Homo sapiens: one gene and its partner. The protein of the gene in region 2 interacts with the protein of the main gene of each other region in a biochemical or structural test. Each region holds a gene or a part of one and is shown on either strand. Other genes may lie near its edges.

Region 1 (7,026 bases), on a different chromosome or scaffold from region 2:
GGTAGTATGTTTTAATTTCTTGCTTTTAATTTTTTTGCCTACCTCTTGTAGGCTTTTGATTTGAAATTACCAGGAAGCTTGCAGGTCATATCTTATAACCGATTATTTTAAACTGATGACAACTGATTCCACAAACGAGCAGAGAAAACTAATAAAAACTCTACACTTTATCCTCCTTGCTTTTTAACTTTTGTGAGTTTTGTACCTTCATGTAATTGCTTACTGCTCGTTAAGGTCCTTTTCTTTTAGATTGAAGAACTCACTTCGGCATTTCTTGTGGGAAAGTTTGGTGTTGATGAAGTCCCTCGGCTTTTGTTTGTCTGGGAAAGTCTTTATTTCTCCTTCATGTTTGAAGGATATTTTCACTGGATATACTATTGTAGCATAAAAGTTCTTTTCCTTCAGCACTTTCAGTGTGTCTTGCCCCTCTCTCCTGGCCTGTAAGATTTCCACTAAGTCTACTGCCAGACATACTAGAGCTCCATTGTTTGTTGTTTCCTTTCTCTTGTTGCTCTTAGGATCTTTTCTATATCCTTGACCTTTGGGAGTTTGATTATTAAATGGCTTGAACTAGTCTTGTTTGGATTAAATCAATCACCAATCCTTGCTTGGTGTTCTGTAGCTTTCTTGTGCTTGAATATTGATATCTTTCTCTAGATTTGGGAAGTTCTCTGTTATTTTTTCTTCAAATAAACTTTCTACCCTCATCTTTCTATCTCCTTTTAAAGGCCAAGAACTTAGATTTGCTCTTTTGAAATTATTTTCTAGATCTTGTAGGTGTGCCTCATTCTTGATTATTCTTTTTTCTTTTGTCTCCTCTGTGTATTTTCAAATAGCCTGTTTTCAAGCTTACTAATTCTTTCTTCTGCTTGATCAGTTCTACTGTTGAGATTCTGCCATGTTCTTCAGTAAGTTAATTGAATTTTTTATCTCCAGAATTTCTGCTTGATTCTTTTAAATTATTTCAGTTGTTTTGTTAAACTTACCTGATAGCATTCTGAGTTCCTTCTCTGTGTTGTCTTGAATTTTGTTGAGCTTCTCCAAAACAGCTATTTTGAATTCTCTGAAAGCTCACATCTCTGTTACTCTGGGATTGGTCACTGGTGCCTTATTTATTATTGTTAATTTAGTGAGTTCATGTTTTCCTGGATGGTTTTGATGACTGTGGATGTTCACCAATGTCTGGGCATTGATGAGTTAGGTATTTATTGTGGTCTTCGGAGTCTGGGCTTGTTTGTACCCATCTTTCTTGGGAACGCTTTTGAAGTATTCAAAGGGAAGTGAGTGTTGTGATCTAAGTCTTTGGTCATAGCAGCCGTATCTGTATTAAGGGGCACCCCAAGTCCAGTAACATTGTGACCCTTGCAGACTTGTAGAGGTACCGCCTTGGTGGTCTTGGGTAATATCTGGGAGAATTCCCTGGATTATCAGGAAAAGAACTCTTGGTTCTCTTCCCTTACTTTCCCCCAAACAGAGTCTGTCCTTCTTTGTTGAGCTGCCTGGAGCTGTGGGGGACGGGTGACACAGGTATGCCTGTGGCCACCATGACTGGCGTGTGCTGAGTCAGACCTGAAGCCAGTACAGCACTGGGTATTGGTGAAAGGCTTGTGGTGATGACTGCCTGGTCACCGCTGATGTTCCCTCAAGACTCAAGAGCTCTACAGTCAGCACAAATCCAGCCAGGCTTGTGCCCTTCCCTTGAGGGCAGTGAGCTCCTGGGGGCCCAGGACTGGTCCAGAAATGCTGTCTGGGAGCCAGGGCCTGGAGTTGGGAAACTTAGGAATCTACTTGGTGCTCTATTCTACTGCAGCTGAGCTGGCACCCAAACCTTAAGACATATTCCTTCCCACTCTTCCCTCTCCTTTCCTCAAGCAGAAGGAGCCTCTCCCCATGGCCACCAGTGCTCCAGGCCTGCAGTGAGTACTGCCTGGCTGCTGCTGGTGTTCACTCAAGGCTCCAGGGCTCTTCAGTCAGCTGGTGGTGAATGCTGCCAGACCTGGGTCTCTCCCTTCAGTACAATGGGCTCCCCTCTCACCCAGGACGGATCCAAAAATGCTGTCCAGGTGCCAAGACCTAGAATCAGGGACCCCAGGAACCCACTTGGTGCTCTGTCTCACTGGCCAAGCTGGTACCCAGGCTGACTTTTGGTTCTTATGAAGGTGCTTTCCTGTGTGGGAGGGGGATGATCGCCAGAGGACTTGCTTTGTATACCTGGATACCTGTAGATTCTTTTTATTTTCTTCATATTTTAAGGAGGCCTTACAAATGTATTGACATTATTGGACTTGTCATTAGGTTTGTATATGAGCTTCATGAGGGCAGAGGCCACACTCTTGTTATTACCATATCCCCAGTGCCTGGCCACCTATTAGGTACCCAACATTGATTCAAACAACTCTTGAATTTTTGCCTCAGCAAATTTTAATCATGATTTGTTTTCATGTATTTTCACATTTTTCTTATTATTAGCTTACATCAGTAATCTTTATACATTGAGTTATCCTTTTTGTTTTGTCTCAAGGGATGCTCTAAAATAAAATCTTCATTACCTCTCTTCATAGGTGTTCTTCTTTTGGGAGACGCATATAATATGAGGCATCCACTTACTGGTGGAGGAATGACTGTTGCTTTTAAAGATATAAAACTATGGAGAAAACTGCTAAAGGGTATCCCTGACCTTTATGATGATGCAGCTATTTTCGAGGTAAGATCAATTATTTTGACAAAAATGTCTCAAAATGGATTTATTTCTGGGGGTTAAGAGCAGTGGGGCTCTGATGGGGAGATCTGTACTAAGGAACCTGATGCTTTATAATAGCTCTTAGGCATCTTGCTTAGGCTTAAAGAACCTGACTTGCAACCTGTGAATCTTAGAGAATTTCTAAATTTGAATATTATGTAACACTTGATTGCTATGGGCCACTTAGCTCATAGTGGTTGTAAATTTAGCTTCAGTGTCATATAACCCATTGCTCTGAAGGTGATTTTTTATTTTTTTTGTAAATGATAAACATAAGGCAATATTACTTGCAGATAGTCCTTAGAAGGATAAGTATCAGTTTGAGGGGATTATAAACATCAGTTTGTGCTTTTTTATCCTTACCATATAATAAATGAGCTATTTCTTTTTTAGGCCAAAAAATCATTTTACTGGGCAAGAAAAACATCTCATTCCTTTGTCGTGAATATCCTTGCTCAGGCTCTTTATGAATTATTTTCTGCCACAGATGGTAAGTGTAGACACTTTTTAGTGAATATTACTCAATTGCAGATTTTTAGCGTAGGAAAGGAATAAACAAGTTAGTGATTTGTCCAGAAATAAAAATGTTACCTGAGTTTGCTAACTCCCAAGTTGGTAGTTTTTTAAAATTCCATTTTGAGCAATAGTTGTAGTTTTAGTTTTAGTTTGGAAGGTAGTGGAATTTCCTTAGACAACATTAATAGCAATGCCTCAGTAACATATTCATTATTTTGAATTCCTCTGGTGCAGACTAGATCATGCTTGTCCTCACACACACAAGACTGTGATGGAAGGTGTTTTTGGCCATGTATTAAAAGGCAATGTAGTCTTTTTCTTCCTAACACTAGTTTCAATTTCTTTTTAAAGTAGTATTTTATAAAATGAATACAAGCTGTTAATCTTGTCCCTGTTGAAAAGCACAAGTAACAATGCATTCACCCTTTACTTATTTGGATTATTTTGGTGCTTTTGTTACTGTTTCCATATTATACAGAGGTCACGGTCAATGTATATATTAGAGAAAACACAACTTAGCAGAAGCAGTGTTAGAAATGGAGGAAAAGAGGCCAGGCGAAATGATTCATGCCTGTAATCCCAGCACTTCAGGAGGCCAAGGCAGGAGGATCGCTTAAAGCCAGGAGTTTCACACCAACCTGGACAATAAAGCAAGACCCCATCTCTACAAAAAATTAAAAGATCAGCAAGGCATGGTGGCGTGTGCCTGTAGTCCCAGCTATTTGGGACTATATAGCTCACTACAGTGAGCTATATATAGTGAGCTATATGAAGTGCCACTGCACTCAGCCTGGGCAACAGAGTGAGACTTCATCTTCTAAAACAAACAAACAAAAAATTAAAAGAAATGGAGGAGAAAAGGCAACTGTGCCACCTCCTCACCACAGCAGTGTACACATCAGTTTAATAGTAGGTTAATGAAACTAGGCTTTTCAGTTTTCAAGAATAAATACTGACTCATATGCCACTACTCTAGTATATTTGCAACATAGCTATTTGTATGATCTGGCTGAGGCCCTAGTGATAAGTGCTGTGGTTATAATTACAAAAGATGATACAATAAAAATGCTTTCTGTAGCCTCTATAACCATTAACTCTTCCTAAGGAAAAAAAACAAAACAAAAACCCCACCAATCTCACTGGTTATGATTTTTCCAAACAAATTTCTCTTGCTAAATTGGCATAGAAGTTAAAATGGCTGGTTGGGCAAATGAAAGTAACTAAGTTTAGAGTTTTGGGCAAATAAAAAGAACTAAGTTTAGAGTTTTGGGCAAATAAAAAGAACTAAATTTAAGAGTTTTTCTGAGCTCTTCTTTCTAAGCTTTTCTAACTTCTTGAGTTCTTAACATTATGAATTTAAATCTACCAACAAAACAACATTTTTTAAAAGTTACAAGATTGGAGGAGGAAAGACCTTTATTGGAGCAAAAGTTTACCTGTTGCATCCTTTACTTTTTAAAATCTGTTGTAAAGAAAAATCTGGGCATACCTGAACAGAACATTGATTCTAAATGGTTAAAAAGGTTATCAATTGATTACACTACATTGTGAGGGTTTTATGAGTTACTTTGAAAGGTATTAAAAACTTTATAGATATAAGGAATTATTATTTATCGCTACTCACAGCTCTCTTCACTTGATAATTTACTGCTTAGTTAGAGATACTGGTTGGACATCTTAGAGACTGGGAATTTGGTTTCTAGAATTGTGTTAAAAAGAGCTTCCAAAGTATTTTGCATCACTTAATGAATTAACAGCAAAATCAAGGAAGTACCTTTTAAACAACTCTTCCAAGACCTAAATATTAGTAGTTATTTACTAACAGAAAAAAGTTTATTCATATTTATATTACTCTCCATAATGCTGATTATGGAATTCAGAAGAAATCCTGGTTGTTGAAATTCTAGGACTAGATATTTAAAAATTATCTGCAAGATGTAGCGTTTGTTATTTCTCATTTTTTCTGATATATCATTAGCATCCTACATAAGTGTGTACACATATTTGATTATTTTACAATTTTATTTTAGATTCCCTGCATCAACTAAGAAAAGCCTGTTTTCTTTATTTCAAACTTGGTGGCGAATGTGTTGCGGGTCCTGTTGGGCTGCTTTCTGTGTAAGTTGTGATGGCACAGAGGATACAAACCTGCCAGATTTTCTTAGGACTGTTCAGTTGATGAATTACTGCAAATCTTTCTTCCTTACACATTTTGATATTTTATTATCTGTTAGTATCCCAATGAGAAGGTGGCCCAAAGAAATGAAGAAACGCAATATTTAGTACTGTTTTCTTTCTAGGGAACAGCAGTTAAAGGTGGTGGTAGAGGAAGCTATAACCCTTGATTAAAATAGAAGCTTGTTTTTTGCCTATGGATTTATCCATATGTTCTGGTCTGTGGGAGCCAGGAATAATTGAGAAATTTTAATTTAAGAATTAGTTTCATTGAAGTACGGGGACTTATACAACCCAGTATTAGTTTTGAGCGTACAGACATATGTGGAACTATTCTTGGAAAGTCTACAAAGTGAAATCTATCGAGTTATTTCTCATTTGCAAAGTGATCCTTTGAGTCATTTCTCATAATCTATAATCTGAATGTTAATACTGATATTTTTAAAAGCCCTACATCCCAACAGACCAGGCCATCTAGATATTTCAGCGTGGTGTCTCAGGATGAGTAAACAAACAGCTAAAAATATATGACTTATGTAAACTAGAGTTACAGGAGTTACTAGCTTTTCTGAAAGGGATATATTCTAAGTATTTTTTCTTAAAAAAAAAAAAAGGGGGGTGGGGGGTTTGCTCCTGCCATCAAACTTAACATGCAGACATATTTGTGACGTCCTCTAAAATGTAGAATGTTTCATACAGAATTATGATGCTTGGGTAAAAAAAAGTAGGATGTTTGTTGAGCTTCGTAGATTATATGTAATTGGAACCTTTGGAGTAAATTTTAGTTTCTGAGTCTTACCAATATGTATTTTTTTCTATTACAGATTGTCTCCTAACCCTCTAGTTTTAATTGGACACTTCTTTGCTGTTGCAATCTATGCCGTGTATTTTTGCTTTAAGTCAGAACCTTGGATTACAAAACCTCGAGCCCTTCTCAGTAGTGGTGCTGTATTGTACAAAGCGTGTTCTGTAATATTTCCTCTAATTTACTCAGAAATGAAGTATATGGTTCATTAAGCTTAAAGGGGAACCATTTGTGAATGAATATTTGGAACTTACCAAGTCCTAAGAGACTTTTGGAAGAGGATATATATAGCATAGTACCATACCACTTATAAAGTGGAAACTCTTGGACCAAGATTTGGATTAATTTGTTTTTGAAGTTTTTTGTATATAAATATGTAAATACATGCTTTAATTTGCAATTTAAAATGAAGGGGTTAAATAAGTTAGACATTTAAAAGAAATGATTGTTACCATAAATTAGTGCTAATGCTGAGGAGAACTACAGTTTTTCTTTTGAATTTAGTATTTGAGATGAGTTGTTGGGACATGCAAATAAAATGAAGAATGAACTTTCGTGTCTTTTTGTTTCTTGTTGTGGGCTCGTTTACATAGCTTCATGATAATGAAAAAGAAAACCAAAGTGGGATGAAAAGTGCAGAGGGAAACCTGTTCTATTAAATAACTGGGGAAGTTGCCTTAATGTCTTGACCTTGATTTCCTCATCTATCCAGTGAAGCAATTTGATAAGGTTATTTTCTTTAAAAAAAATTACTTATTTATTTATTTATTTTATTTTGGGGCTGTGACTC
Region 2 (7,236 bases):
GACCAGCTTGGCCAACATGGTGAAACCCTGTCTCCACAAAAATTCAAAGATTAGTCAGGAGTGGTGGCACATGCCTGTAATCCCAGCCACTCAGGAGGCTGAGGCGGGAGAATTGCTTGAACCCAGAAGGCAGAAGTTGCAGTGAGCAGAGATCACACCACTCCAGCCTTGGCAGCAGAGTGAGGGAGACTCTGTCTCAAAAAAAAAAAAAAAAAAATTTTTGGCCTGGTAGTTACCTTACTATTTTTGTCAGGCGTTCAGTGCTTTTAGGAATCTGTTTTCTATATTTTATATAGAATTTCCAATTGTTGGTCTAAAAAACCCAGTCTGCCATAGTCTTAGAAAGGGAAGCGAACATCACCACTTTTCTCAGTACTTTAAATGAGAGGTTCTTTTAACCTAGGATTCATGCATGGAGTTCAAGGCATCTATATACCCCCCTGAAATTTCATGCAATGTTTTGTGTTTAACCAATTTTTTCTGGGAACAAAATCCATAGATGTTATCAGATTGTTAAAGGTGCCAGTGATAGAGACACCCTCAAATTTGATAACTATTGCTTTAGAGTTCTATCAGTACCTAGTAATTTTAATTAAAAAATGATTTTAGAATGATTTCAAACTCACAGAAAAGTTCCAAGTAGAGTGCAAGACAATCTCCACATTGTCGTCACCCAGATTCGCCAATGTTAACTCTGCCCTGACCCCACACACAATTAGTCTTTTTCTGAACCATTTGGGAACAAGCTTCAGACCTGAGTCCACGTTACCCCTAAATGCTATAGTGGGTATTTCCCCAAACAAGGATCTTCCAAATCAAGAAGTTAACATCGCTACAAGACCGTTCACAGAATCTATATAAGTTTCAATTTTTCAATTTCAACTGTCCCAAGAATATATTTTTTAAAAAATTGGACTGGGTGCAGTGGCTCATGCCTGTAATCCCAGCACTTTGGGAGGCCGAGGCGGGTGGATCACGAGGTTAGGAGTTCAAGACCAGCCTGGCCAAGATAGTGAAACCCCATCTCTACTAAAAATACAAAAATTAGCCAAGCATGGTGGTGGGCACCTGTAATCCCAGCTACTCAGGAGGCTGAGGCAGAGAATTGCTAGAACCCAGGAGGCAGAGGTTGCAATGAGCTGAGATCACGCCACTGCACTCCAGCCTGGGCAACACAGCAAGACTCTGTCTCAAAAAAAAAAAAAAGTGTGTAATATTTACTTCACAGGATTGCTATGGATGTTCATTGGACATAATAAGGAGTTTGGTTAGTTGTCATTGTTAGTTTGTTACAGTTACACTGTGTCCCCCTACACTTCCCCTCTTACTCATTGCTTATTGGGGTATGGAAAGCCAGCATTGCTATAGCATTCTCGCAGCACAGTACACACACACACACACACACACACACACACACACACGAGGCTGGAATCATGGGTATACTATGTCTTTAATAAAGGATCTTTCTTGGCCAGGCACAGTGGCTCACACCTGCAATCCCAGCACTTTGGGCGGCCATGGTGGGCGGATTGCTTGAGCCCAGGAGTTCAAGACCAGCCTGGGCAACATGGTGAAACCCCATCTATACCAAAAACAAACAAACAAAAAAACAAACCACAAAAATTAGCTGGGCGTCATATGCCTGTAGTCCCAGCTACTTGATACTCGGGAAGCTGAGGTGGGAGGATCACTTAAGCCAGGGTGGTGGACTGTTGCAATGAGCCAAGATCATGCCACTGCACTCCAGCCTCGGTAACAATGTTTCAAAAAAAAAAAAAGTATTTTTCTTGATTGGACAATGAGAATTCTAATTGTAATGGATATCTATTGTTTGGTCCTCCCCCTTCTTGTGGGAAACGGTCTTTCTCTACTTCCACAAGGTAGTGTACATTGTTCTTACCTGAAATGGCAGTTACAAGAACATGACAATGTCCATGTTCTTAAAGATCCTAGATCTTTGGCACAATCATTTGATTCACGGACAGGCAACTAGCTGGACCAATGAACTAGCCTTCCCTGAGAATTTTTAACTTGGGACTAGAGATCATCATCCTTACCTCGCCTGTCTGATGATGAGGCAGAAGATGAAATGTTGGGAGCTGTCAGTGGCCTTGTTTCCAGACATATGGAGGAAGCTGGTCTAACAGCATGAAGCCAATGTGCAGAGAGAGTTGCAGAGCTGAGCCATAGGGGCAGAGGCATTCTCGTTCTAGTAGTCCCAGCAGTCCCTCCCCTTCTTGGAGTCTGTCCATATCAACAGTACATTCCTCCCTTCTGCCTAACAGTTGAGTTCCTGTCAATGGCAACCAAGAGAGGTGTGACTGATTCATGTATTCAAAGGGCTGTTGTGAGAACTTGTGCCTGACTCACAGTGGGGACTCAACAAATGTTGGTTTATTACTCTTATATTTAACGCCTAAAGTCTGAATGCGAAAAGGTTAGGGCAATTCCAGAAGGAATTACTATGCAGAAGGGAAAACTGGTTGACAGGTTAACTTTCCTTTGAACATCACAAGGGAAGGCACCTAAATACAAAAGGAAGGCTTCCTCCACGCCCCCCATACACACACATTCCCTTCATCCTAACCTGGCTCTGCAGCTCCGAGGGTCACATACCTGCCCTTGGCACTACTAGTACTTCCTCCAGCAAGTCTCAGTCTTTCTTTCAGAATCCTTCGCCCTTATGCCATGTAACATCTGATCGGCCCGGTCTTTGCCCCTAGTATCAGCAGGCCAATACGTGCTCTGCTACAGGTCTTACAGGGAGGGTGAGCTCTTGGAGTTGGATCAGAAGGAGAGGGGCTGGGGAAAGATCGTCTTCAAATTGTTTCTTTGGCGGTAGTATATATAAACATATTTAGGCAGGGCATAGTGGCACATGTCTGTAACCCCAGCACTTTGGGAGGCCGAAGCGTGAGGATCGCTTAAAGACAGGAGTTGAAAATCATACTGGTCAATATAGTGAGATTGCAGTGAGCCATTATCGCGCCACTGCATTCCTGCCTGGGTGACAGTGCGAGACCCCTTCTCAAAAAAAAAAAAAAAAAAAGAAAGAAAAAAATCATAAGCAAACAACAACAAAAAAACAAATATAAAGAATGGCGGTCTGCTTAATTCTCCGTGCCAGCCCTTGAAATCAGTGGGTATTATTATGTAGAGTTTGAGTTCTTTCCTCCCTTGAGTAACATGAGTGACATCAGTAACATTAGTCAAGCGCTGCTCTTTTTGAAAGACTGTATTTCATTATTTTTATTCTAAACCTTACTCTGTTTGATGAAGATTGGGGGAAGAGCCCTCCCAATTCCACCGCTCACACATAACAGCGGTTGCTAGCATTCTTTATTTGTGCTAGGTCATCTGCATATTGTTTAAACATTTTTCGAGGCTGGAAAGACTGCTCCCACTCAGGCAATTCTGACGTGGCGGCCCTTCTAATTTATATTCTCTAAATAATTCTTCATTTAGAGAAAACAGTCAGGGATTACAGTGAGGGAGGGTGACGTGCTGACGGGGACAGAGCTTGGCTTTTGATCATTCTCCCCTTAGCTCTGCCCAGGCAAGCGTCCCTAACTCAGGGTATCGGAACCGATCTCCCTTAGAGGATTATGTTTCAACCACCAGCCTCAGCGGTTTACTCAAATGTCCTTCCAGCCAAATGCAGAAGTCTCCCTGGGAGTAATTTTGGTGAAGTCAGCTTTTGCCTTTTTCATCACAGGCAGGCTTTAGTAGTTCCTCAAAACGTGCACCACAACTGCCCGGCTGCCAAACAGAAATGCTGATGCCTGGGCCCACTCTAGCCATTTGGCCTCGGCATCACGGTGCGGGAGCGTGGGGCGCAGACTCGCATTGTCACAGGAACCTCCCGGCCTTCCGAAGAGCCCCGCGCCGGGGCCTTTGTCTCGCACGTCGGCTGGGGCGGGAGCTAGGTTCTCGCAGCCTCCTCCCACCGCTCTGCGCCTTCTTTGTCCCTCCAGAAGCCGCCATCAAAGCTCAGCTCCTGATTAGGTTTCGGCCCCGCTGGCCGGCGCAGTCTCGGCGACTACCCCAGGCGGCCTGGCGCACGCGAGGATTCGCCGCGCCCCAGATGCAGGTGCCTCCCCTCCTTAGCCGCCGACCGACAGTGCACGCCGCGGCCGCCGGAAGTGACAGCGCCTGTCGTTGGGGAGCTCCCGCCCCTTCCGCCTCGGCGCCCCGCCCAGGCCTCGCCCCTAGGTGTTCCCGCCCCTCCCCCTCCCGTGTCGCTCGCTTTCTGTCAGCCTCTCTCCCTCTCCCTCTCCCCTCTCCTTCCTCTCGCTTCCTCTCTCGCACCTGAGCGTACGCACCTGCCCGGGCCCGGCTCCCTCCTCCTCTCCCCTCCCTCTTTCCCCGCCCGGCCGCGGGAGCCTCGTGGCTGCGTCACCGCCGCCCCCCCAGACAAGATGGACACCGCGGAGGAAGGTAAGTCGGCGACGCGCGGCGCCCGAGCCCTTGCGTCGGCGCCCGGGTTCGTACCCCGGCCAGGTCCGCGGCGCTCGAGGTGGGCTGCTGGATCGCGGCGGGGCGGACGCCTGGGCCGTTTGTCCACCCGCTGGGCCTCTGGGCCGGGGAGCGGAAGGTGACCCTCTGCGCGCCCCCCGCCGTTTCCCGCCCGCGCCGCCGAGGGGGGCGGGGACCCTGCCGGGCAGGGGCCGGGGCCGGGGTCGGGGCCTCGGGGCTACTGCAGGCCGGCGTGGCCTCCCTTGTCCCCGCCGTCGCGCGCTGGCCCAGAAAAGGGGGCCTCTGTCGCTGCCGTCCGGGGGCGTTTTCCGCACCCTTCCCCCACTGGGTTTTGTCTTTCTTTACGTCCTTCTGCCTATTGCTCGCCAGGCCCTACCCCCTCGCGACAGAACTTCTTTGTTGACTTTGAAACTTCGCGAAAAATACCCCGCCAGATGACGGCCGAGTGGAGTGAGCTGACCCCTGTTGAAAAGCCTGGTCCTCGGCTTGCCTGCCGCTCGAGAATCTGTTTACTAAACGGGGAGGCTCTTTTGTTGCGATCCATTTGGTTTTAAATCCTTGACACCTATAAGCAGGGTTCTGTTTGTTTTGTTTTGCGATTGCTTGTGTTTTGGATACGGTTACATTGAACAAACTGACCCTTGTAAAATGAATACTTAAGATATAAACGTCCACACCTTATGTCTCTTCAAACGCATTTTCTTACCCACTGAAGGTAGTAGATTATTTTTAACCAGCTGTGTTTTTAAATGAGTGGTGAGTTTATAGAGGAAATTACTAAATTTTGCTTTTTTTGATGTTCCGGTTATCGTGCAAATGCTTTTCTACTTTAGGTATATTTATGGGGGTATGAGCGTCTTTCAACCTTATGGGTTGCGATTTTGGCGATTTTAAACGAAAATGAATTATCAAACGCCGTCATGGAGTGCAATAATGAGTGAAAAAAGTTTGATATTATCTATGTAATGAGTTGATAACGACTTATTTTTTTTTAAAGAAGTCTTGCCTTTAATAAATACCTCAACTATAACATGTGGCACTTGATGTACATTCGCGTTCCATCTTCGTAAAAAGCCTGTGGAATAGGTAGGTATTATCTTTTATAGATGTGGAAATGTAGGCTTCGTTATTTTAATAGCTTGTCGAAGCTTTACACAGGTAGTAAGAGGCAGATTTGAACCTAGGCATTCTGATTGCAAGTAATTTCCCTTTCATTATGCCACAGTGTGTTTATTATATACACTGAGTGTAGCTAATCGCCACTGGAGACGCCTTTGGAAAAAATAGTAAAGCGAAACTGCTGAAGGTTGCGAACTATTTCTTTTTGACAGGTGGTCCTTGCGTGTAAATTTCCATCTACATAGGTTTCACATCCTTTTAGATTCAGGTTTTAATGAGTAAATCTAGTAAGGCATGTATTTATCACAGGATAGGTACGGACGTATTACATTCAATTCTCATTCTTTTGGCCTGGGCATTGCTACTTGCATACTTTTATGGTGTGACAGTAATCTGTGGTAATTCAGGAATTGCGCTCGAAGCACGTATGGAATCATGAAATATTTTCACTGTACTTCTAGTGCTTAAATATATTTTTTCTCTTGTAAAATTATAATCAGGATAAGGTATACATAACATTTATTTATTGAACACTGTTGCCTGTTAAAATAACATGTGCTGAAGACTCAACGTGTAGTATGTGCTTTACTAAACACTTTATATACATTTCATTTAATTCTCTCACATCGTTAGGTAGTCGGCATTTTCATTTTACAGATGAGGAAACTGATGGTTAGTATGATTAAGTAACTTGTCCAGGATAATACAGGTAGTAAATGGCAGAGGCAAGATTCAGACTCATGTCTGTCAGAGTCGCACTTAAATTAGATTATTTATTTATGAGTGTATACTACAAGTCCAATGTTGAAATTTATTTTTGTCACTCCCTCTATAGGATGAATCATTTATATAATTTGGTGGAAACTTTATTTTGCTTTATTTTGTTTTATGAAATTATTAGTCATGAAATGCAAGTGAATTTTAGTGCCGTATTCTCATGCCTGCTTTTGCAAAATTCCAGTTTGGAAGTCTTCTGACATTTTTACAATTAAATTTAAGTTGAAATAACACTTAAAGGAAAAGGGAGGGTTATAGAGGATTAAAAATGATATAGCAAAGATGCCAAAAAACTAATAAAAAATGTTCTATTTGTGAAATCAGTTATTATAGGTTATTTCTTTAAAAAATGCGACTTAGGTTTTTTAAATCTGCTTAGAAATTTTTTGGTAGGAGATATTCAAAGTATGGCCAAACATAAAACTAAATTAAAAAAAAATCAGTATCACCTACTTTTGAAAACACTTATACTGTTGTGGTTCTGTTTTTTATTTATTTTATTTTATTTTATTTTATTTTATTTTATTTTATTTTATTTTATTTTATTTTATTTTATTTTCCGAGATGGAGTCTTGCCCTGTTGCCCAGGCTGAAGTGCAGTGGCATGATCTCTGCTCACTGCAACCTCCACCTCCCAGGTTCAAGCGATTCTCCTGTCTCAGCCTCCTGAGTAGCTGGGATTACAGGAGCGCGCCACCTCCCTCTGCTAATTTTTGTGTTTTTAGTAGAGATGGGGTTTCGCCATGTTGGCCAGACTGGTCTCAAACTCCTGACCTCAGGTGATCTGTCCGCCTCAACCTCCCAAAATGCTGGGATTACGAGCGTGAGCTACCGTTCCTGGCCGGTTCTCTGTCCTTTAAAAAT

What was found. The genes of interacting proteins can lie anywhere in the genome.
Region 1: of the proteins of MARCHF6 (region 2) and SQLE, one has a biochemical effect on the other in vitro, tested with the Homo sapiens proteins (one study listed by BioGRID).

The regions. Positions count from the first base shown.
Region 1 is NC_000008.11:125,015,498-125,022,523, forward strand, and holds the end of SQLE (squalene monooxygenase), read left to right. Parts: intron 1-2,561; coding exon 2,562-2,704; intron 2,705-3,133; coding exon 3,134-3,230; intron 3,231-5,286; coding exon 5,287-5,374; intron 5,375-6,255; coding exon 6,256-6,448; 3' UTR 6,449-6,786; downstream 6,787-7,026. UniProt on the Homo sapiens protein: Catalyzes the stereospecific oxidation of squalene to (S)-2,3-epoxysqualene, and is considered to be a rate-limiting enzyme in steroid biosynthesis.
Region 2 is NC_000005.10:10,349,481-10,356,716, forward strand, and holds the start of MARCHF6 (E3 ubiquitin-protein ligase MARCHF6), read left to right. Parts: upstream 1-4,214; 5' UTR 4,215-4,418; coding exon 4,419-4,437; exon of another isoform or gene 4,438-5,562; intron 5,563-7,236. UniProt on the Homo sapiens protein: Endoplasmic reticulum membrane-associated E3 ubiquitin ligase that plays a critical role in mitigating endoplasmic reticulum stress, the regulation of cholesterol and lipid homeostasis, and ferroptosis.